Linked DNA regions of Homo sapiens: region 1 is linked to region 2. The links come from fine-mapping of genetic effects on gene expression. Tissue or cell type: whole blood. Region 2 holds a variant in brackets; the other region holds the start of a gene. All regions are shown on one strand. Distances are from middle to middle. Region 1 holds the start of SNHG8 (small nucleolar RNA host gene 8). Region 2 overlaps NDST3 (N-deacetylase and N-sulfotransferase 3).

The links.
Region 1: it holds the start of SNHG8, and the variant in region 2 is fine-mapped to the expression of SNHG8 in whole blood (INTERVAL, PIP 0.99).

What each region holds. Positions count from the first base shown.
Region 1 is chr4:118,269,154-118,286,446 of GRCh38, forward strand. SNHG8 (small nucleolar RNA host gene 8) reads left to right here and starts at 9,609. Exons shown (of 3, transcript NR_034011.1): 1 at 9,609-9,639; 2 at 10,236-10,278; 3 at 10,471-10,670. PRSS12 (serine protease 12) reads right to left here. Exons shown (of 13, transcript NM_003619.4): 12 at 13,678-13,958; 13 at 10,885-13,090. The coding sequence ends at 12,783. It overlaps SNORA24 (small nucleolar RNA, H/ACA box 24), which reads left to right and starts at 10,037; the gene lies at 10,037-10,167. RefSeq lists an enhancer at 9,137-9,316 and a silencer at 9,387-9,436.
Region 2 is chr4:118,236,190-118,244,189 of GRCh38, forward strand. It overlaps NDST3 (N-deacetylase and N-sulfotransferase 3), which reads left to right. Exons shown (of 14, transcript NM_004784.3): 10 at 857-1,031; 11 at 4,335-4,505; 12 at 5,851-5,960. Among named protein-coding and RNA genes, the nearest start is that of SNHG8, 39 kb to the right of the region's middle. The variant T/C (reference allele first, on the strand shown) is at 3,131.

The DNA.
Region 1 (17,293 bases), 38 kb after region 2:
ACATTTCATATCAATAGATTCATACAGTATGTAGTCTTTTGTGTCTGGCCTCTTTTCACTTAGTGACATGGTTCTGAGTTTCATCTATAGCATGTATCAGCCATAGCATGTTTTTTTAAAAAAACTTTTATGTTAAATTCAGGGGTATATGTGCAAGATGTGCAGGTTTGTTACAAAGGTAAATGTGTTTCATGGGAGTTTGTTGTACAGATTATTTCATCACCCAGGTACTAAGCCTACTACCCAATAGTAATTTTTCCTGATCCTCTCTCTCCTCCCACCCTCCGCCCTCAGGTAGGCCCAGTGTGTACTGTTCTTCTCTATGTGTCTATGTGCTCTCATCATTTAACTTAAATTGGATTTATTCTTATATAGCATCTGAAGTCTTTTATTTTACGTTTTTGATTTTCTATTTTTTTGGAGATGCAGTCTCACTCTGTCACCCAGGCTGCAGTGCAGTGGCACAATCTCGGCTCACTGCAACCTCCACCTCCCAGGTTCAAGTGATTCTCGTGACTCAGCCTCCTGAGTAGCTGGGATTACAGGCACCTGCCACCACGCCTGGCTAATTTTTGTATTTTTTGGTAGAGACAGTGAAGACCTATTCCAGTTATAAATACTAACTAATAGGAATTAGTTTCAAAGTTTGCCATAGAATTTTTCTCTCTGAAATGATTTCCATTATAAAATTTGAAATATAGTCCTATTGCAGCGGGGAGACTTAATTTAAACTTTTTGGCAAAGAGAGAGGTAAGATGTGCCTGAGGCCAAAAGAGTTAGTCGACTTTGCCGTAATATACTAAGCTACATTCAAAAAAGTTTGCCAGTTTTGCTTAAATGTACTACCCTGCATTCATTTTTCCTTCTGTACATTATGTATAATTTCCCAGAATTCTTTTTCACTTTTATCATCCTGGCTTCCTCATTCAACAAACGTTTCATTGAGCATGTTCCAAAGTACTACTGCAGGTAAGATGAATATGACTACATTCTTGCCCTCCAGTAGACTGGGCAGAAATATTTTATTTCTCCAACAGAATCATTGTCTAGTTTGATATACAACACATTAACAGTGTATTAACTACTTCAGACAGTAGGAAATGAATTAAATCTCTAATTGATGAATTCAGTATGTTAAAAATCTGTATATCAAGTTCACATATTAAAAAGGTCTGGTGTATTCCAATGGTATGTTTAGAATATGCATCTGGAGAAAGTTGTTCCTTTCTGGTAGAACCTGAAGTTTTCAATATTCACTGTAGACATTCATCATATAAAACTAGAGTCCAGAGGATAGGCTTTTAGAGATACTAGATATGCTGACATTTTCATGTTATTATCCACATATACATTAATACATGCATGCACAATGAACAAATGTATTTAATTCAAAGGGCTTTAAACACATACCTAAATAATAAGGTAACAAATTCAAAGGGATTTAAACATATACCTAAATAATAGTGTAACAGAGCCATCTAGTGGCCACATAAAAACTGTTGTTTCATGTGATTTTGTTTCGTTCCATCAAGTTTTACATAAACGTAAGCTTATCTTCCCACTAATACAGATATTTATAATGCTTATGGATAATGGGCCAAAGTAATTTGGAGCTGGGGTACTAGAGTAAATGTTTGACATCCTAAGACATCTGTAATCTATATTGTGTGTAGAAAAAGGAGAATTTTAACAAGTGATCATTAAATTTTCAAATTATCTTAATTGATATGGGATGAAAGCATTAGATGTTTTTAAATTGTTAGTTTATGAATACTCCAAAACAAGATCTTCTCTTTTAATATGCCATATTAAATGTTAAAATAAATAACACTCTTATTTTGCATAAAGGCAAGTAAGCCCAAAAAAAAAAAAAAAGCCTCACTAGGAAATAGACTAAAGCAAGTACCACAAGCCATCTTCGAAAGAAAGAAAAAGTCAAGCTTTTGAGATGTTAAATATTTAATGAAACATAAGTGCAGAATCTCACTGACGTGCAAGCTTCTACAACCAAGTCAGGCGTTCACTCTTAAAGTGCTGGAGGCCAGTTTGAGATCATAGAACACATAGGCAATCCAATTTTTCAGGCTAAACCATAAAAGGCTCACAATGTTGCTTGCCAAACTTTTCAATAAATTTATATTATAAATGTTTCACAATGTCAAACACTTACTCTAAAATCCCAGCTCCAAAATTCTTGGATCACCATCACCTCAAAATTCATGGATCCAACTTAAACCACATTATCAATGTCCCTCACTGTTCTCAAGTATTAGCATCTCTTCTTGTCTAACTTAAATGTCATGGTAAATCAATATAACCAGTCCCTTGCATGCATTCCTTTTCCCTTCTATCACTTTGCTCACTCTCTTGGCAAACTGCAACTTGGTTAACTCCAACTCCCTGTCAGCTCCATACCAGCACCTATGCAGTTGAGCATGATGAAGAGAAAATACACAATCATGCTAGAGATTTGACTTTGAATTCATTACAAGAACTCAAGTGAGCTCCTAATGTGACCGGGGAAACCCACTACTTTTCCAAGTCTATTGATGCCATCTCCTAATTATATTTTTTCCTCTCTCCTCAAATTTCCAACACTCTCTCCCCGATCCTCACTCTCGGTTGATGGCCTGGTTTCCTATTACCCCGGAAAAAAACATTAGTAGATGAGAACATTCAAAGTTCACACCACCCACTCATCCACAAGCACCTGTACCCATGTACTCCTATTTCTATAGATGAACTGCCTAAACTATTATCTTAGGGTAACCCCTACTTTTGTGCACTAGATCCCATCTCATTTCCTAAGCAGTTCATCACATATCTGCTGCATCATCAGTTTTTCCATTTCTACTGGATCTTTCCCATCAGAATACAAACATACTTTAAGTTCTCCTATCCTTTAAAAATGACCCATTCTTGATCCCACATCCCTTTCCAGATATTGCTGCATTTTTCTTCCTCTTTACAGTGTAACTCTTCAAAATAGTTGTTCCGAATCCATGATTTCCAATACTTCTCCTGTTCTCTCTGAAATTACTCTCAACAAGGTCCCAAGTGACCCTCATATAGCTAACTCCAATGGTCATTTCTCAACTTCCATCCTACTTGTATCATAAACAATTGACCACTTTCTTTTGAAAAACTTTTTTGACTTTTAAGGTATCACACTCTGCTGGCTTTTCTCCTTAAATTACTTCTCAACATCCTTTGCAGGTTCCTACTGTTTTTCCTGGTAGATTAATATTGACAGGCTCCAAGGCTCAGTTTCTTATCCTATTTTCTTTTTTTCTTTCTTTTTTTTTTTTTAAGAGATGGGGTCTTGGTTTCATGCTCAGGCTGGAGTGCAGTGACATGAGCATAGCTCACTGCAGCCCCGAATTCGTGGGCTCAAGCGATCCTCCTGCCTCAGCCTCCCGAGTAGCTGGGACTACAGGTGTGTGCCACCACACCTGGCTAATTTTTTAAAAAAATTTTTTGTAGAGACGGAGTTTCACCATTTGCCCAAGCTGGTCTCAAATTCATAGGTTCCAAAGAGTCTTCTCTCTCAACCTCCTAAAGTGATGGGATGGGATTAGAGGTGTGAGCCACTGCACCTGGCTTCTTATCCTACTTTTTATCTATCCTTCCTCCCTTGGTACAATTATCTGATCTCATGGCTTTACATACCATCCATAGTTTGACAATTCACATATTTCTTTCTTCAGGCCAAACCTCTCCCCAGACCTCCATATTCATATATTGAACTCTCTACTCAACACTTCCACTTGGATGCCTAAAAAGCATCTCAAACATAACATACAAAACTGTGCTCCTAAATACTTCTCCCCGAAAACCTGCTCTTCCTGCAGTCTCCATCTCAGCAAATCACCAAAAACCTTAGTCATTTTTCTCATAGCCTAGAATCCCTTTATCTTATATACTTTACTATATCCAATCTGTCAGCAAATACTGTCAGCTCTACAATAAAAATATTTCCAGAATTGAATCATTTATTTCTTTCACTGCTACCACTAACCCAACACCAATAGCTCATCTTATTATTGCACTACCCTAACTGTTTTCCCTGCTCTACCATTATCTCCATCGCTACCCTAGAATTTTTCTAAACAGAGCTTTGAGAGAGAACATGTAAATCCTAAGTTAGATCATGTCATTCTACTCAAAACTCTCCAAAGGCTATCCAACTTATTCCAAAAAAACTAAAAACTGTATAATGACCTATAAGGCCATAGGTAGCCTATCATTACCTTTCTAACTTCACTTCCTACTTGCTTACCTCATTCCAGCCAAACTGGTCCAAATTTTATTCTTCGAACATGCCAAGCTGAGTTATCTATTCTTTCATAACAAATTATCCCAAAATGTAGTAGCTTACAACAGAATTTATTATCTCACACACTTTCTGTAGGTCAAGAATCCACGTGTGGCTTAGCTGGATCCTCTGCTACAGTGTCCCTCCCAGGCTGCCATCAACAGCTGGGGCTATAGTCATCTCAGGGCTCAACTGGGTAGGGATCCACTTCCAAGCTCATTCATATGGTTGTTGACAGAATTCAATTCCTCATGGACTACTGGTCTGATAGCCTCAGTTCCTTGTGGGATGTTGGCCAGAGGCAACTCTGTTCCTTGCCACATGGGCCTCTCCAACATAGCAGCTTGCTAGATCAAAGCAAGCAATACAGAAAGACACAAGAGGAAGTGGTAGCAAAACACAAGTCAGGTTTTAATACCTGGTCTCACATTTCACCACTTTGCCATTCAAGAGATTACATAAAGGAAGGAATAACATGAGGTGAGGTCACTGGGAACTTTGCCTACTGTATCAAGTATGGCCCCAATGAGAAAGCATTGGTTGCTTCGAATATTCCTCTTCCAAATGTCTGCATGTTTTGCTCCCTCATGTTCTTCAAATTGTTGACCTTGTGTCACTTTCTGAATGACATTTCCCCTGAACACCTTTTTAAAATTGTAATTCCTACCTTCCAAACACTTCTCATCTTCTGTGCTGTTTTTCTCCACAGCACTCATTGACGTTAACATACCATATAATTTACATATTGTGATTGGCTTCTACTTTAGTTTAGCTAAGCTAGTCCTACATTTCCCTTCCCTTCCCTGAATAATTCCACGTTCAGAAAGACCACAGGAGACATTTTGTATGAGACCTGGCAAATCAAAGTAAAGCAGCATACACTTTTTACACTTGGAAGGTCAGTGTGGGGCATCAGGCAATGTTGCAGATCATGCAAGTTATCACTTATCTACTAATTGTCTTGTAAGTGTGGGGCAGTAGCCAGATCTATAGCTTCTTCAGTCATCCCAGATCTTCTGTTTCAACTTCAACAATCCCTAAGTCTGTGACAAAGGGCATCAGCTTCTCTTGCAGATCACCTCCATCATCAAAGCTAAACCCTTGAAACCAGGAAGAGATTGGTCCTGATTCTAGTTCATTCTCATGGATTACAGCTCATTCTTGTAGATGCCAATTTTCCTTGGTCCCTCCACTGCACAATTGTGTAAGGTCAGATTCTACATATATGATTTTAATCATATGTATTTCCTAGTAGTTCTGATTCTGATAGAACTCTAATACTCTTATTTGCATCTGTTTTCTGCCACTAAAATGTAAGCTCCATGAAATTTTTTTAAATTCTATTTTGTTTACTCTTTCTAGCCACAGCATCTATGACAGGACCTGGGATATAGTAGAAACTCACTATTTAGTCATGAGAATTTTTTTTAATGTACAGTACAAAGAATAAGTATTAAGGATGGCAAAAATGAGATGAGACCAATATTTTCTAATGTTCTAAAAGAAAGATTACTATAAAAAATAATAAGAACTGAGATGCATCTTAAAGGATGGGTAGGAAGAATGGGTAGAATATTCTATTCTATGAAATAGCATGAACAAAAATAGGAATGAGCATGCTAAGTGTAACATACATTGTATGTTGGCCTGGGATGAGGAATTTTACCTGATAATCAGTAGGAAAGTCATTACACTTTCTATAACAAGTGCTTAACATGTAGAAAATATTTCCAGAAATTTAATCTTTCATTAATATACTTAGTTGATTGGAAGAGAGAATTAGAAATGTAGGGAGACAGCTCAGACATATTATCTTAGATTAGCAGTGTGATATGGTTTGGATTTGGATTCGTGTCCCTGCCCAGTGTCGAACTGTAATCCCCAGTGTTGGAGGAGAGGCCTGGTGGGAGGTGATTGGATCATTGATTTGCCCTTGGTGTTCTTGTGATAGTGAGTTTTCACGAGATCTGGTTATTTAAAAGTGTGTTGCACCTCCCTCTGCTCTCTCTTCCTCCTTCTCTGCCCATGTAGGATGTGCCTGCTTCCCCTTCCGCCATGACTGAATGTTTCCTGAGGCCTCCCCAGCCATGCTTCCTGTACAGACTGTGGAACCATGAGACAATTAAACTTTTCTTTACAGATTACCCAGTCTCAGGTAGTTCATTATAGCAATGTGAGATCAGACTAATACACAATGTAACAATAGAGAAAAGGTAACTATAAAAATAATGTAAACAGTTGTAACTTGGCCACTGTAGAAATCATTAGTGCTATAATAATATATTGAAATACTTCCGATTATCTTCCTTCTAAGCACACAGTAGGATTCCATTTCCCCAGGCTTTTGGAGTTAGGTGTGGCCATGGAACTTGCTTTAGTCCATAAATATGAGTCAAAGTAACATATGTCACATCAGAATGGAATCCTTTAAGAACATAATGACTATTTTCCCTTCTCCCTTTATGTTGCCTAGAACCATTACAAATGGTGAAGGCCTCATTAGCCTGGTCTCTAACATGAACATAAGCATGACAAGAAACAAATCTCTGTTGTTTTAAGCCACAGAGATTTTGGATCTTCTGTAACTGCAACACAACTTCATCCATCCTGACTGTGACACTTTTAGAATTTGTCAACAAAATTTTATACTCCCCTCAAGACGGGCTAATTTCCCTCCCCTTGAATGTGAGCTGGCATTAATAACTAACTTCTAACAAGTGATGGTGTGTAGGCCACAATAAAAAGTGTTGGAGCTTCCTCTCTTGAGTCACTCACTCTGAGGAAAGCCAGCTGCCACGAGAATCATGAGGACAGTCAAGCAGCCCTATGGAGAGATTCACATGCTGAGGAATTGAGGCTTCCTGCCAACAATGAGCATTAACTTGTCAGGTCTGTGAATGAGCCACCTTGAAAGAGAATCCTGCCGCACCAGCCCCAGTCAAGCCTTCAGATGGCTGCAATGCCAGTCAACATCCTGACTGCAACCTCACAAGATACACTGAGCCAGTTAAGCTGCTCTTAGATTCCTGACCAACAAAAACTATTTGAGATAGTAAGTGCTTATTTTTTTTTAAGCTACTAGGCTTTAGGCTAATTTGATATACAGCAATCGATAACTAATACATTGGTTGATACAAAAATATATCAAATACTGAAAATAAAGGATAGGGAAAAATAAGAACTAATTTCTTTGCTTTGAACTTTGAATGATTTGGAAAACATTGTAATGGCACTAACTGTAAGTTACTCAATTATATTCTCAAGTCTTGAGGCAAAGGCCATGTCTGCTCAATAAACATTTGCTGGAGTCTAGTAAATGTTTAACAACTGAACAAGATGTTCAGAACTGACAAGAATATTTTAATATAGATAGGAGGGAACGTCCATCTCCTCTCTTTTGGACACTATGCTTTTTTTTTAACACTAGATCATACTGCAATACACTATACTTTTATTACTGCAGCAAAACCAATTTTTACAGCAGAAGTATCACGCTGCTAGTATACACTGGAAGTTTAGATTTGCTAAGTGTTTTAAGATAGAAATAAGTCCACAGGTTATTTCCTCACTATATTTTCTCCTATTCATCTCAGCATTCATATGACAGATGTGCCATTCTATGTTAAATTTTTCTGATGACTACCAGTTTCAACACTAAACCACAAAAGGAAAAAAGATATAGTGCAGGGAAAAGCATTGTTGAAGAATAAATATTCTATAATGAACTGTTCACTCCATGTATCAAAAGCAGAACTGAAATGTTACCTAGCCATCATTTGATCAGTTCTAACAGGTTCACCTTGCATTCTATCTTTAAAATCCTTAGGCTGGGCGCAGTGGCTTGCACCTGCAATCCTAGCACTTTGGGAGGCCGAGGAAAGAGGATTACTTGAGCCCAGGAGCACAGGAGATCAGCCTGAGGGCAATATAGTGAGGGCTTGTCTTTCAAAAAAAAAAAACCTTAAAAAAAAAGTAGCCAAGTGGTGGCACACGCCTAGCAGGAGGCTCGCTTGAGCCTAGGAGGTGGAGGTTGCACTGAGCCAAGATCATGCCACTGCACTCCAGGCTAGGCAACAGAGCAAGAATGTTTCTAAATAAATAAATACATAAAATAAAATCCTTAAGCCAATCTTCATTTACCAACCAATTTTTAATTCTTTTATTTGTTACCACATTGTCTCTCCTGAATATCCAAAGGCTCAAAGCCTTGGTTTGAATGCAGCTAAATTCATTGGGTTTGATCTCAAGTCAAACTTAGAAATACTGTCATCTCAGCCACAAATTTCACACTAAAGTAGATAGAAACCACTACTAAATCACTACTTTGTCTTAAAATGAAAGTATAATAGACTGTAAGGTTATAATTGCTTTTTTAAGTTAAACTTTGTTTTACATTTACAGAAAATTTGCAAAAATGGAGTCCCCACACCCCCTTCATCCAATTTCCCCTACCATTAATATCTTACAATACCATGGTATATCTGTCACAATAAAGAAATCGGTATTGGCACTATTACCTAAATTCCACACTTTGTTCAGATTCGCTAGTTTTCCATTAATGTCCTTTTTCTGCTGGAGATCCCAGCCAGGATACCACATTACATTTAATCATTATGCATCATTTTCTCTGGCATAATAGTTTCTCAGACTTTTCTTGTTTTTGAGTAGTGATTAGGTAATTTGTAAAATGCTAACCAGCGATCTCAGCTCACCATAACTTCCGCCTCTCGGGCTCAAGAGATTCTCCCACCTCAACCTCCCGAGTAGCCGGGACTACAGGCGTTCACCACCACACCAGGCTAATTTTTGTATTTTTAGTAGAAACGGGGTTTCGCCATGTTAGCCAGGCTGGTCTCCAACTCCTAACCTCAAGTGATCCGCCCGCCTCGGCCTCCCAAAGTGCTGGGATCACAGACGTGAGCCACCGCGTTCGGCCCCTTTTTCTAATATTGTCTAAAATAAGTATCCTAAACAGGAAATACCAAAAAAATCCCCCTCGCTTTCGTGACCTACACCGGTAAGCGTCAGGATCTTTCGCTATGCGAGAACCTTTTGGCTCTCGTATGTGCGCATGCGTCTGGATCCGGAGCCAGGTGACCCGCTCAGACGTGGACCATGTGCGGGGGAGGGGGGAAAGGAGCCGCGAAGGGGGTGGTAGACGGAACAGGTGGAGCCGCGGCGGGGCTAGGCGGGGCGGGGAGTGAAACAGCATAGGCTCCGCCCCTCGCGGCGCTTCCCCCGGAATAGCGTCATCAGTTCTATAAGAGAGCGTGTGCCGAAGGCCTCGGCCTTTCACATTCGGGAAGCGTCGGGATTAGGTGAAAGTACGTAGTTGTCTTTCGTAAGTTAAAATGATAATTGGGCCGAAACTTACTGCCTTACCTAAAAGGCAGCGCAGTCAGGATATTGGTAGGTCGGGGGCGGCTTTGGAAACCCTTAAGTTTACAAGCATGCGCGGACTTGAGTGCTCATTAGGTCGCCGGGCGTCCACGTGCAGCCCTGGACCCTGAACCCCGGCGTGCGTGGGCCGTGGGCCCTCGGGGAAAGGTTCCGTGCACTCGGGGACTCCGGTGAAGCCTGTTCAGCCGTCTGTGTCATGTGGCCATCTTGAGTCTACTCTGTCGCTCTTGTGCCCTAGCACCCCGAGAACCGTCAGTTTGAGCCAGATGGTGAGTAATAACCTGTAGCAGTTTGGTTGCTGGTTAATTCTGGATTGTGAATCTCCATGTATCTTTGGGACCTGTCAGCCGTGGCAGTCTCCCTTCCTAGCCATGGAAGAGCATATCCTTGTTTATTGGCAAAGCTGTCACCATTTAATTGGTATCAGATTCTGACTTGCACAAGTAACATTCACTGTTAAAAACCTAGAGGGTGCCGGGTTATTGGGCAAAATTTCTAAACCGTTGTTCAATGTTTCTAGGAAGCTGAGCTGAACACATTACGATGGATGATGGAAACATAAGGTACATTTCTTTTTTGATATTTCTGAGTTAATCTGAAACGCCTTAGCGGCAGGACGTTGGAAAGCTAAAGTTGGCCCGTTTTGCTGGCTTTTGTAGTTTGAGTTAACAACCAACTGAATTAGCTGATAAGATCTCAAAACAGTGAGGTAAGTACACAGCTCGGAGTTTTATAATGCTTTTTTTCTCTTGCAGACTATCAAGAAATCCAAGTGGTAATGGGCGAAGTTTATTCAGCATCCGGCAATGGACTTATCGTAGTTGGGGAAACGGGTGTTCCGAATAATATCCTGGAAGTTATCAGGACACCTATTTTAAATATAGGCCTGAATTTTGTAAAGTAATATTTAAGGTGGTCCGTGATAATTAAATAAAATGCTTAATTCATGTGGCTACTCATTGTTCCTTGACTGAGTGATTAATAGACGGAAAGGTAGTTAATAGCATAATACCTCCTATTTAGTGTTACACGCTCATGTGGAAGTAGTGTGAGTACAGTTCTAAGGTAATTGCAGCCTTTGTGAAAAATGTAAAATATAAAAATTACCAGGCTACCCCCAAGGGAGACAGCAGACTCTTTTTAAACCATACAAAAATTTAAGGCAGTTATACAAGGTGGAAAATTATGTATTTATTTACACAAATATGCACAGAACACTTGTATCTTTCAAAAGTCACACTTAAGACATAGTAAAAGCATGTTGTATGAACCATGTATTCTTAAGGATTGAGCAAACTGCAGGCTGCTTGCTGCCTTTTAGGTTTGCTAGTCCCTGATCTACTTGAAACAGATGTTGCTTGCCCCAACACTAGTTTAATTATAAGGGCAGCCTGTGAGAAAGTTTCAATAGACATTTTTCTCACCTATATTGCACGTTTTTCTGAAGCCCTTGTGCAAGTGTGTGTGCCATGTGTAGTTCTATTTACATATAAACGCTACTTTAAAAGTTTATCAAAATCATGAGTTTTTACAAAAGTTTTTAATGCTCTTCTGCATTATATGCAGCATTGCAAATCTGCAAAGTAGTAAAACTATAAAGCACCTTTAGGTTTGCACCAGTTATTACAGAAATGGGGATTTGTGAAAAGGATGTAATTTGATGTAGAAGGGCAAAGTCCTTTAATGACTGGCATTCAAGAGGATTACTTAAAACAATTTGTAAGTTCATGCTAACCTCTTCCCTATATTTATACTACTGGGACCTGGGGAAGGATCCATGACATGGAAGTATCTTGAGTGTGCCTTTTAAATTTGAGCATTACTGCTAAGAATGTTCTGTAAAGGTGCATAGTTAAGCAGCTATCCCTTAACTCTTGGAGAAATAGCCATAGGGAAACCAATCATTTAGGTAGGAGAACCATGGGGAAAAAAATCAGCATTTTTTCTGGAGTTTGGAATCAGTTTCACCAACTGGTCTCACTTTGAGGCAAGCCTGTTTTCCCCCATTTGAAAACAAGGGCTACTACCATAAGATTTACTGGCCTTTTGCAAATTGTCAGTGATGTGCAAAGCTGCCTAATGCAGTGCCTGGCATATGTTATAACTGCTGTATGTATTAGAACTTTTCAATGTGTAGGCCAGGAAAGCATTTTGACTAGTATATTTTAAGATTGGATTGTATCAGGTTGGGCTTGGGAAAACCTGCAGGTATAAGTCAGTTACAGGGAAGTGTCAGTGGGTGGCACTCTTACATCATGGTCGGGGAACGTGGACTATGATGAGGTGCTTGTTAAAAGCAAATATAGTAGATATGTTAATGTGTTGGATAAAATAGGTTGTATGTCCAGCTGGCATTTAGTTACCAGAAATCCTTTCAAATTTTGCTAGTTTATACGCTGTAGGTAGAAAGTATTTTTATCTTATGGTTTCTGTAGCACTTGGTACTCAACAAGGATACTTGTTTCCAAATATCAGATCACTTTGAGAATATATTGTGACAGGCAGATGTCCTTGAGGCTTTACTACTCCTATTCAGGCCTAAAAGTTTATAGTGGAATTCTTTAACCACTGATTTCCTCACTTGACAAAGGCTACAGAGAATATGAAGATTTCTTGTCAAGTCTTTTGAAAAGACCTAAGCATAAATATGCCACTCATGAGTGTAGTAAAGGGTACCGCATTTATGTCAAATGTGGGTATTTAATATGATTTCAGACACCACTGATTCAATTAAAAGGGGTTCTCAGTTCAAATGTAAAAATGATCTTTTGTAAAATCAGCATAGAATGATTTTGAGAAATAGGTAGGGGATAGATGAGGCTTAGAATAAGTCACTCCAGTGAAATTAGGGTAGAAAATGTTCATTTAAGGATTATCACTTCCACTACACTGAGGCCTCTGAAAATGTTCACAAATTTCTCAAAAGCAGCAGGGGGTACACAATTTTTTACCACAACACAAAGCAAAAACAGATCTTGCCATTTGTTGTCATCTCTGCTGAGTGCTAATAGTGGGGGTTCAAAGTTTTCCATTTGTTTAAATGCTGCTTTGAAGTTTCCATGAAGAATTACAGTTTGGTGACACTTTTTATCCAAGGTACAAAGGCTGAGACTTTGGTATAAACACCAGGAGAATCCTTGACTCCACAGCCATACCCCCAGGAGGTCACCCCATACACCACCCAGCTCTCTCCGGGCCGTTCACACATGAGTGGTCCTCCGCTGTCTCCCTGGCAGCTGTCCACGCGTTTGTGTTCATGGAGGTTTCCAGCACAAAGCATTCTCCCTGTAAACCGACCCTTATAACGTTCTTCACAAAACCTTTTAGGAAGTAAGGGAATGGCTGCTTGTTGTAGTGTTCTTGAATAGGCTCGTCCTACTCAGACCAAACATCTGATTAGTGGCATTCCAGATAACCATCGCAACATTTAACAGTTACTGAGCATGTAATAGTTATGAAAATAAAATCCCTGTTGTGGCATTAGTGTAGTTTAAAATGAGCAATGACTAACTGGTATGTACTATTGTTAGCTGCCTTTTTTAATGTTGACACAATCTTAACCTTCACAAATTTCTCAGTACTGAATTGTCTGAGGAATAATGAATAACATTTATGGATTTGTAGAGTAAGGTGACCTAAGAAAGCATATTTGTGCAGGCTTTCGTATTTGAATTCTGTATATTAAAAAGCATAGAATGCATTAATGCTGGTTTCGCATTAGCACATCAATTCATATCTACTTCACTGAATTAAACTGAGTTCTCAGTTTATGCTAAAGTTCTCATTAGAACCAACAATACCTCCAGAATATAAGTCTCAATTACATGCATGCATTTCACACTAAGCAAAATTTCTCCAAATAAGTCTGAATCCATTTAAGATCTTATTGCCCATTGCACACCCAAATATATGGATAATACCAGACACAAAAAGGTGCCCTGCTTTTTTTGATTATGCCTTACCTGTGTCACCCCATCCTGTTATGTAACAGTTGGATGCTGTTTTCTGTGGCCTCTCTCTCCAGAGTGGTAAACAGGCTGGCAAAACATGGCTGCTGAATCTGGCACATTGCTCTTCTGGTCCTTGTAATCTAACCAGGGCTATGTCATAATCACTGCGGTCGGGTCGATACTCCCGATGAATCACAATCTGTTGAACTCCAATTTCTTCCTCAAACTCCTCTGGTACCAGAGTATGATAATCTCCAACCCTAACAGCATAGCTCCTAGTGCTGTTGCCATACCTGAGAGGCAGAGAGTACTAATGAGAGACTTGCTTCAGATACTGAAAATTATTGTCAAGAAGGAAGACTAATGAAGATACAAGCCTTTCTTCCAAATCATCAGCCCCTTTTGTAAATTCAACCTTTCTTTCCATTTATCTGACCCACCATTCCTGATCCTCTACTGCAAACCCATTGTCATAACCTCATCTTCATTTCATTATGTAATCTGTTCTCCAAGAAGGAGCAAATGTGGAGGATGAGTGGAAAATAAAGACTAATCATTAATCTGTCATTTCCCAAATGAAAAGCGATCAAAACAGGAATAGGTCAAAATTATTGTCCTGTGTTGTTGCCCTGTTATTTCCAAGAATTGTTAGTTTGTCATGAAGCTCTGTGAGGGCAGAAACTAACTTTGTGTCCCTCAAAGTACTTAGTACAATCGACTTCACTCTTGCAAGGTGGACTTAAACTACTTCCCTTTCCTCTAAAGTGAATGCAAACCCAAACTATACTTTCAGATAAACATATATTCCTTCTATCCTTTCCCCTCTTTTAAATCTTTATTCAGATGTCACCTCAATGAAGCCTACTTTGACACCCTCGTATTTAAAATTGCAACCCATCTTTCTTTTTCCTCCCATCATCAAACACTCCCAATATCATTCATCTCTACTTTTCCTCGTTTTTAAGCATCACTTTGTAACAAAACTATCTAATTTACAATTTATTGCATTTATCCTCCTCCCTGCTTGAGTCAAAGCTATTCCAGGTCAGAGATATCTTTGTTGTGTTCACTGATTAATCTAAAACACCTAAAATAGTGTTGTGCCATTAATTAGGAATGCAAAAAATTGATTAAGTTAGTGAATGCTTATTATTAATGTATACTTTCTATAGTCCATTAAAATAGAAGCAATATTTACCAGATGGATAGTTCTCAGCCCATTTTTCAGCCATCATACTAAAGTATGATGATTCTGATACCAAACCCACCTAAAGCAGGGTTTCTCAATCTCAGAACCTATTAACATTTTGGACCAGGTAATTATCTGTTGTGAGGGCTGTCCTGTGCATTATAGTGTGTTTAGAAGCATCCCTGGCCCCTATTCACTAGACGCCACTGGTACATGGTACACAAACCCTCCATCCCCAGTTGCGATTACCAAAAATGTCTCCAGACATAGTCACGTGTTCCCTGTTAGGCAAACTGCCCCCAGTTGAGAACCTCTGACCTAGAATGCATGACACAACCCATCTCCTAGTTACTTCCTCTTTTTCACAGAAGACTAGAGCTCCATGCTCATTGCATTCCACTACTTATAACATTCTTAAGACTTAATTTCCAATAACTTTTCCTTTGTAGTTCCCTGACTTACTCATCTGCAATGAGTGTATTCTCCACCTCATCTCAGCCACACACTTACAATGTAAAACCTAGACCTTGTATTCACCAGGTAACCACACACCTCTGAAATCTTGATTTCACACATACCGTTATTTCTGCCTTCTGTTTTTACAGCTCTAAAATCCTTCAAACCCATTGGACTTCTATCCTTTGGCCCTACTATTTTTTCATTTTAGTCTTTTATGACTTCCCTTATTATCTGGCTTGGGTTCTACCGTCTGCCCATTACAACAATCACTCGAAAAACTACCCTGCTTGTCTTTTACCTGCCAAAACTCCAGCCCTGGTTTCATCAGCTCTACCTATTTTGTGCCGGCATCTAACTGTTAAAGTGGGGAAGCACGCATGTAACAACTTTCACCTTAAATTTTTTTTAACCAAAACTTGGGTCTTTTATTGTTTACAAGACCTGTACTTGAATGTGAACTTAGAACTGAGTTGGTATTCAAAAGCTTGGCATTTTCTAGTGTCTATTTAAAATAAAACTTCCCACTTCTATAAAATTACTGGAGGTTATGAGATGCCTGAATATTCTAATCCTTAAGTAGGGCTCTGACCATCTCGTATATATGATTAACTGTCAGCGCTCAAAAACTAAACAGTGCAATAAAGATGATTTGGCTTATATAGCCACCTACTGTTGATCTTTAATATTAATAGTTAATCTGTGATTTCTTGAGACTCAATCTTAAATCATCACATATCTTTAAAGTTCAGAGGCTTTTTAATATATTGTGCCTAAAGTATATGCTCTTATAGCTTCCTTGAAAATTTAAGTAAAATTTAGGATTATTTCACATACTGAACTAAAAAGTAATAGGCATGGAGAGTAATCAAGTACTTATTTTCACTTCTACTTTCTGTGTGCTAGTAATATCGCTAGTATATTCATTAAATTTTATTAACAGTACATTCACATATTTAAAGTAAAACCCCAAATGATTTAACACTTTTCCCACAAGAATTATTGTAAATACATCCTTGAAAGTACTGCTGAAATGTTGCATTTATCTTTTTAATAGAATTTAAGAAATTATCTAGAGCTGTAGTGCCCGATATAGTAGCCACTAGCTAACTGTGGTTACTGCAGCACTTGGAATATGGTTAGTCTGAATTGAGATGTGCTGAAAGTACAAAATACACAGAATTTTGAATACTTAGTATGAAAAAAAAACTAAAATATTGTCCCTATAGATAATAAGAATATTAAATATCTCAACTTTTCTATTAGTTACATTTTGCAATGATAATATTTTAGATACACTATGTTAAATATATTATTTAAAGTACTTTGACCTGTTTGGGTTTTTATCTTTTTTTTTCTTTTTTTGAGACAAGATTTCACTCTGTTTTAAGTCTTATTGCAACAGTATTTTCCATTCTGTAAGAAACAGCTGTGACGCTTGGCTAAATTAATCTTTGCAGCTAAACTGGCTGTATAAATCTATTCCGCATTATCTATAAAAATTGAGTCTTCAACCAGTAAGCAAAGAAACAGGACATTACTAGCACAGGCAATTTATTTTTAAAATAATATCAATGTTAAAGCCCTGGGCAATCTTGCCTTAATGTGTCATTTCATGCCAAGACTATTGCAGTAGTCGCCTGAATGGACTTGCCGCTTCAAGTTTTAAATTTTTCAACCCATCCCTCATGCTGCCGCCAGAGTGATGTTTCTGCCTGATAATATAACTCCTTCTGAGTACCCTTCAAGGGATCCCCAATCTATGTGAAATTCAAATTCCTTAAATGATACACAAATCCATCTAAGAACTGGTCCTTGTTCCCCTCTCTGATACCAGCCTGGCCCCTGTGCTCCTGTCATTTACACCGTTTGAAGAGTTGTCTTACAAACCCACGTCATTATCCAAACTATGTGCAATGTTGTTTCTCTCATCCCCTCTATCCTAATATGGCAAAACCTGATTTTGTCCTGATCAAGTCAAAG
Region 2 (8,000 bases):
ACTCTAAAAAATCCCTTTTCCTCTAAAGGATGTTCCTTAGTGCTTCAGATATATTTCTTATCATATGCTGAATTAGTTACATTTGACAACTTTTATTCAGGTGGAACATTAAATAAAATTCTACATTTCAGTGCTTGAACCTATAGATATCCCTGTGTTCATTCTGCTGGTAATTTGAATTCTCTCTACCCATGAGGATATAGAACATGACCTTGGGAAATTTGTTAGAGTTTTATATTTGGAATGTACATAGTTTTTAAACTTCTCTTACAATTATTCTAAAGAGGAACATAAGTGGCTCTATATGAGAAAAATTAAGCAAATAAGCAATATTTATACCAGATATACTCTGCATCTTTCACACTATGTGATTAAACGTAACACCGGCACAATACATTTGTAGAAAAGAAATTATTTCACTTGCAATAAAGTAAAAAATATTTTCTCTAAATCCTTTTAAAATGTCTGAACTGAACATATCGTCTGTTTTAATACGATTTTCTTTTTGAGTACTTGAATTTTTCTCTGTACAGTGTTTCTACATTGAGACACATTTGATATAGTTAGGTCGATCACTGTTGCAGTTTGATCACTCTGTGTCTACATTTTTGTTATTGCTTATATTTTTTCCTGATATTAAGCAAAACATAAAGAAAATGTACTTAGAAAAACATCTTCCAAACACATTATTAGTGTTCTAGATATTTTTCTCTTCCTAACTATGGAGGACAAATGCTGTAAAGAAAAAGCCTTTTATTTAGGAAACACATGAATTTGTGGGACACTTTTAACATCTTTGGTCACCAGAATGAGTATAAACCAGAATCTTATTTTGAGAAAAATATTCCTTTTCTAGGTATATGGATTTCTTCCCAGTCCCATCTAATGTCACTACCGACTTTTTGTTTGAGAAGAGTGCCAATTACTTCCACTCAGAGGAAGCCCCTAAAAGAGCTGCTTCTCTGGTTCCCAAAGCCAAGATTATCACCATTCTCATTGACCCTTCAGACCGAGCATACTCCTGGTACCAGGTAAGGAAAATGCAAATAAAATCCAACAGGGAGAAGTGGAGTATGGACAATGGAGCATTGTTTTTAGCAATACCCACTAGCTCAGGTTTTCACAAAAGAGATTTGCTAGTTGTTTGATATCTACAGAAAAATGGACAAGTTTTTCTTGATTTCTATTGAGAAATTTCCTCCACTAAGTTTTTGTTCTTATTTTATTAACTTAATCAATTAATTTAATAAAATGTATTAATGCAATAAAAGAAACTAAATTAAAATATAACAAAATATTATGTACTTTTTTATATCTATGCCTCTATATATCTGCATTTTAAGGTAATAATTTAAAATCATTATTTTTTCATCTAATACTTGTGTACTCTATAAAGAGTCAGATTGCAACAAGTTCAGACATTGAGGTTTATACAGTCTCCATTGCAACTCTACCATTGTATTTCGAAAGCAGCCATAGACAATATGTAAATGCATAAGCATTCCTGTGTTCCAATAAAACTTTACTGAATAGGCAGTAGGCCATAGATTGCTGACCCTGGCTCTAAAACAGCTTAAATAGCTACTTGTACTAAAGAAACAGCTTAGTGGCAAAACTAATATATATAAGAATCTTTAGGCTGGGCGTGGTGGCTCATGCCTGTAATCCAAGCATTTTGGAAGGTGGGAAGATTGTTTGAGCCCAGTTCAGGTGGGAAGACTGTTTGAGCCCAGGAGTTCAAGACCAGCCTGGGCAACATAGGGAGACTCTGTCTCTACAAATAAAGAAAATTAGCCAGGCATGGTGGCACACATATGTGGTCCCAGCTACTTGGAAGGCTAAAGTGGGAGGATTGCCTGAGCCTGGGAGGTTGGGGCTGCAGTGAGCTGTGATTGCAGCATGTACTGTGCAGAGGGAGACTCTGTCAAAAGAAGAGAGAGAGAGAGAGAGAGAGAGAAAAGAAAGAAAAGAAAGAAAGAAAGAAAGAAAGAAAGAAAGAAAGAAAGAAAGAAAGAAAGAAAGAAAGAAAGAAAGAAAAAGAAAGAAGAAAAAAAGAAAGAAAATTCTACATCCCTGAGAGCCTAACATGTCTAAATGTTTCTTGTATACTCATTGCCATTGTTTTCTGATGTTGGTTAGAACCTTGCACAAAAACGATCACTTTGAAATAATTTAACAAACTCTAGTAATAATATATATGTCAAATACACTTTTAATAAATCATTGCAAATAGGAAACAATCTTTTAAAACTTGTTTCGGTGATAATTTAACCACCAGTTGGAAGGGTTTAATATGAAGCAGTCAAAATTAACATAAGAACATAGTAAAATTAATAGAGTCAATGTCTTTAGTCTCTAGGACCCTTAGTTCTCATTTCTCAGTTTTGTAACTTAAAAAATGCTTTCCTACTGTTCATGTGTTTATCCGTTCATCAAGTAATTTTAATGACTACCATGTGCAAAGTTTTGTTCTAAGTGTGATTTGAAAAATAAATTTGAAGCTATACTTGAAATTGCTTTCAGCCTAATTGGAGAAATATGTATAAACAAGCATATAAATTAGAAAGTAATAAGCGACTGACATACAGACTCCTTCGGAATGACAAAGCCCACCTGACAAAGACCACCTGGGAAAGGCTGTCGCAGAGAAGCCCAAATACCAGAACCATGGGGCACTTTCTTAAATAAGGGAAAGATACGTAAGGGGATACATTTAGGCAAAATTAAAATGAAGAAGTGTTTTCATAGGTGCAAAGCAGAGCTGTGTAAAGGAGTTATCATCAGGTCAGTGCTGAAAAGCAGACTGAGGGTCCTATTTTCTTGGAAACAAAAATGTTAAGACAAACGTGGAATGTTCTATGTACAAAAACCTCTAATCTGAAGTCTGCAAATAGGCTGGATATATGACTGCTTCCCTGTGTTAAAGTGACCCACATAGCTTAGATCCTCCCTACAAGAGTGGGATGTTCCATTCTTATTGATTTGATTTAAAACAGCTAAGTTCTTGACAATCATAATATTAGAGAATAAAGTTGCTCATTACTGAGTCCTTTTGCTACTTAACAAAAGCAGTTTTTGAAGTTCACAAGAGGAAGAACAGATTGTTGGAAAAGGTTTTGTGGCAGGAACA[T/C]AGTAGGGAAAGGTCATAAAAGCAGATGAAATCTTAGGGATTTTGATAATAATCTGAAAAATAGCGAGTGGAGACATCCTGGAAAGCTAAGATCCATAAAAATCCACCATTCTATACTAATCATTCACGCCAAACCTGAAGCCATCTTTTAAATCAAAACATACAGCAAATTGCAAATTGCCTGATTTGATTTTGCAACTTCTACCTTTTCCACCAAGTATCTGGAGAAAAGAGAAATAAGCCTTAATTGACTCCAAGAAAAAGAAGAAAATTGGAGCTTGGCAACCACTTAGTCCCTGAAAAATAGAGAATTTACAGAAAAAGAAGGCTTTAAGGCTGCAAGCTAACAAAATGTCCTAAATATTACAAATAAATCACAGTGGCAAAATGCAGGCCTTAACAAAGTCTAGTAGAGTTTGTAGTCCAGTGATTTGAATCTCAATTGCAGAAAATTTGCTATTCAACTAGATGAGGTAAACATCCACAAACTCACCACTAAGCCTGAATATTTATTGGCCAATTTAAAGAAAAGGTGATTTCCTCAAACCCATGGGCCTAAGCCTGAGCAATCCTGTTGGATTGCTGCTTTCTGCATTTTCTGCACAATAAATGATTCTGATTCACCGCAAAGGTTACCATTAGATAAAATAATCTTGGCTTTTAGATATCAGGGAATGTATGATAAAAGCTGTGGATTTCAGATAATGTACATGTCAGACTTTCTAGTACTTTCTTCATTTAAAAGAGCTGATAGGCCTTTTCTAATCTAAAACTGCATTACTAGATGGAGCAAAACTATTTGGCAGAGGTAGTAGGGTGCTTCTCTATTATAGATATTCACTGGACACTATAAATGGTTTGCTTATGAGCTGGAAAGAGGGCATTAACACAGCTTTCAAAAGTTTACTTTCACAATAAAATACATACACTAAGGAAACAACTCAGTAATGCTGGTGAAGGAATCCTATCGATAGGAATTCAACTTCTACCAGATAAATTCTCAAAAATTTACTCCCATAAGTATCATAACTTTAAATCCTGATGCTCCAAGCAAACATTTTCTTCCTTTACTAATTTCAAAATAGATAACTCTCCAGCAGTGAGGCACTTCTTTCTTTAGCTTTGAGACTTGTCACAAAGATTGATTTTTAATTATTTATGCCTACGGTTCAGATTAGTTTAATTATCCACCTTTTCATCATAGCATCAGCGATCACATGAAGACCCTGCAGCTCTGAAGTTTAGCTTCTACGAAGTGATCTCAGCAGGGCCCCGTGCACCCTCGGAGCTCAGAGCCTTGCAGAAGAGATGTTTGGTCCCGGGGTGGTATGCCAGCCACATCGAGAGATGGCTTGTTTATTTCCCCCCATTTCAGGTATGGAGTAATAAGGATTTACATCATGTTAGAATCTCATTAAGTTGATGACTTTGCCTTAAGGTTAAGAAAATTTTCAATTGTTAAACTATTACTAGTTTTTCCTCTTTAGTTGTAAATAATGAGGCTATGGCAAAGAGAAATAGGCAGAAGTAGAAAAACTTTAATTTTCTAAGAGTATTTCAGAATAATTCTCCCTGCTCTATTTGCTGTGCGTACCTTTCCTGATTGTAAAAAGCTTTGAAAGCTTTAGATACGATTCTTATCCTGAGAATAAAGTTTGAAAGAGAACCTCTTAACCAAACAAGACAAATAATGTTTTGCTTAATTAAGTGCCATTATTTCCTTTTTGAACCACCTTGCTGAATTTTTGATAAGTCCTATGTTTTTCTCAGCCCCTTGAATTTCTTCTGCCTGGCATCAACCTAGATTGCAAAATCAGCCCCTCATGGGATCATGTAAGCAATCCAGACACATCAGACATGGTATATACCTGTGAGTCTAGAGCCATGCTTTCCAGTATGACAGCCACTACCACATATGGCTATTTTAATTTATATTAAAATCAAATAAAATGAAAAGTTCAGTTCCTTTAGCCACATTTTAAGTGTTCAATAGCTAAATGTTAGACCCAGCAGCTATAGAACATGTTCATCATCACAGAAAGTTCTATTGAACAGTGCTGGTCTAGGCTAAACAGAAATATCAGAGAAGAGGTATGGATAGACAAGACCTGCTTTGCAGGCTTTGTGGCCTTTAATCCTGGTCTCCTCTCATCTTGCTGGGTCCACCCTCCTTGGCATAACAAGCAACTTCTTCTTAGTTTCTTGAGGAACTTTGTCCATGTTCAAGTTTCCTGAGAATCTAACCTTATTCTCCATATGGATTATCGAAATATTTCTTCAAACCTGACAGTGCTATTCCTGAAAGGAATCGTGAGGAATGACATGTTCTCTGTCAGATTACATCTGAGTTTATTATAACCTTTCTTCTTTTCTATTGTACTTTCCAGCTTGAATGACAGGATCACTGCTTTGTCTGTTTTGAAAGTTGGTTTCCATTTGTGATTTTCTAGTCACTTTTCTAAGCTCTCTTGGTCTTTCAACTGCCTTTTTTGTTTTCATAGTGTGACTTCTCAGACTGCAAACCTGAGTGTACTTAATTGGTGTGATTTATTTCTTATTCCAGGTCATTAATGAGGATGACCTGGATTCTATCTAACACCAATGCATGCAATTCTGCTCAGGACAGTGTCTCTCACTGAATGAGTTTAGAATGCAGAAATTTTTCATTATACAGTTTACATGTCTTTTTTCAATGTGCATTTTTTTATTTGATAATTTAGTTGCTAATTATTGATGGGCAACAACTAAGAACTGATCCTGCTACAGTGATGGATGAAGTACAGAAGTTTCTAGGAGTCTTGCCTCATTATAATTACTCAGAAGCTTTAACGTAAGTTTATATTCTAATTAGTTTATTGACATTTCAGCAGAGAATTGATTTCAAAGAAATTGCAGTTTGGTCATACAACTGTCAGGTTACTTGTTCCTTATATACTGGTTATTTTTCAATTTGACATTAACCACGGAAAAAAAAAACATTTCAACAGTGTGACACAGAAATGTCCTAAATCCTGTGTTAATTCCTAATTGTACAAAGATTTCCCTGAAAGGAAAGTAGAGAAATAAAACAGTGGTAAATCTTAAAACAAACCACAAACCTTAAAAGAAGTTATCTGAAATAAATTCGTAAAGCCTGAGCCTATTTAACAGGCAATATGGGGCTTCTTGGAAGTATGAACAGGTGAGTAACTAGGTAGTTTAGGAACTGACTCTTCTCTCATTTGTGTAATTTTCAGAAACAATGTCATACAGCAAGAAATAGTCCATAGGTGATTGAATAAGCAGAGAGAGATGTACTATTATCGCTCCTAAACAAACGTCCTTTTTTATTTTTTCATCTTTGTCTTTATCCACTATTTGACCCTGTCATCTCTGCTTCAGAGTCCTCAGCAGTTAAAGCACTGGTTTGATTTTTCTGTTTGTTTGTATGGTTTTTTGCTGGTTTCCTCCGATTTTCTTAGGTAACTGACTCTGTAAGGTCCATGACCAGGGACCAGTAAGGAACTAGGGCTGAAGAAGGCAGTCACTCTCGGAGGTGTGCCCATGCCTGAGACTGAGTGCTGTGTCCTAGGTGCCTCTCTTACCTCACCCTAGTGCTGACTCTGGGCTTCACTTAGCATTTTTGAAGAAGACCTCTATCTTACTGCGTCCATTTAGAATAGTTGGCAATCAGATTTAGGAGAATTATATTTGTTCCTACCACATGTGTAGAGCAACTGGAAGATACTGAGTTGGATTGGGTCATGGACCTGACTCACACCGTAAGTTGGTTTTTTTTTAATTACATGGACTGAGCCTTAAAAAAAAACTGAAAAAGACTATCATGGAATTTTTCCATTGTGTTTTTCAGTATAAAACTCAGTTCCACAGATCGAGTAGTTTTCCCTTTTTTTGTACTCTTTAATATCAATTTAGAAAGTGAGAGGCAGGTTTCCTTTACCTTTCAACAAACTTTGCAGGAAAAAAAGATTAGCAGGAAAACATCAAATACTGCTTATATCTCCTACAAATCAAATATAGAGACACGTAAGGGAGGCATTTTGCTGTAGAGGACAAAGGAGTAGGTGGAACTCTGCAGTTTTGAGCTTCCTTCCTAAGAGTCATTTATACTTTGCTGTTATTATTAACCTTCTGACCTCTGTGTTTTCTATACTATGAGTACTGTCAGAGTTTTGTATAGCTTAGTTCAAGTACTAACACAGACACTGGCCTTAGGTATTTAACATTCAACTTGACCTTAAAGAAAGCTGAGTGATTTCAGTTTGCACTTAAAAATTCAAGACCATTTTCTGTTCTGTATCTTTTTAAGCATCTCTTGGAAAAGAAAGCTTTTATTTTCTAAACAGTTTTCTATTTCAAGTTAGGTTATCTGTGGGTCTTTTTTATAGAGTATGTAGCAAAGCATTGTATTTCAGAAAAAAAGAAGTACAGTATTCTATAAAGACAGAGTTGCTTTTTCTTATGGGATGGTCCTTGACCTGCATGCTGTGTATTTGTCCCCTCTGCAGCCAGCTCAGCAGCAAGCTTTTTATTCATCTCCACTGCTGAGAAAAGGCAGTGTAAACTTAAGAGAATATCAAAGCAACATACTATATACAAAGAACCGTAGTCCGTTTGCACCTGAGCTGTATCTAGCTAAAATTACTGATTATATGATTCTCTAACCTGGTTGGGGGCTCAGTGGGTGAAATAGCAAGATAAGATATGTGTAGTCCCTGAAACCACAGTTTCTATTCCAGCAGTGCCACCCAGGCTCTCACCCTGCAGGTGGAGATACTGTGTTTCCATTCCATTTCTTTTTATATTTTCTTGTCAATCATCAATTGGCCTGACATACCTTGTAAAACCTGGCAGTGCACTAGTTGTAGAA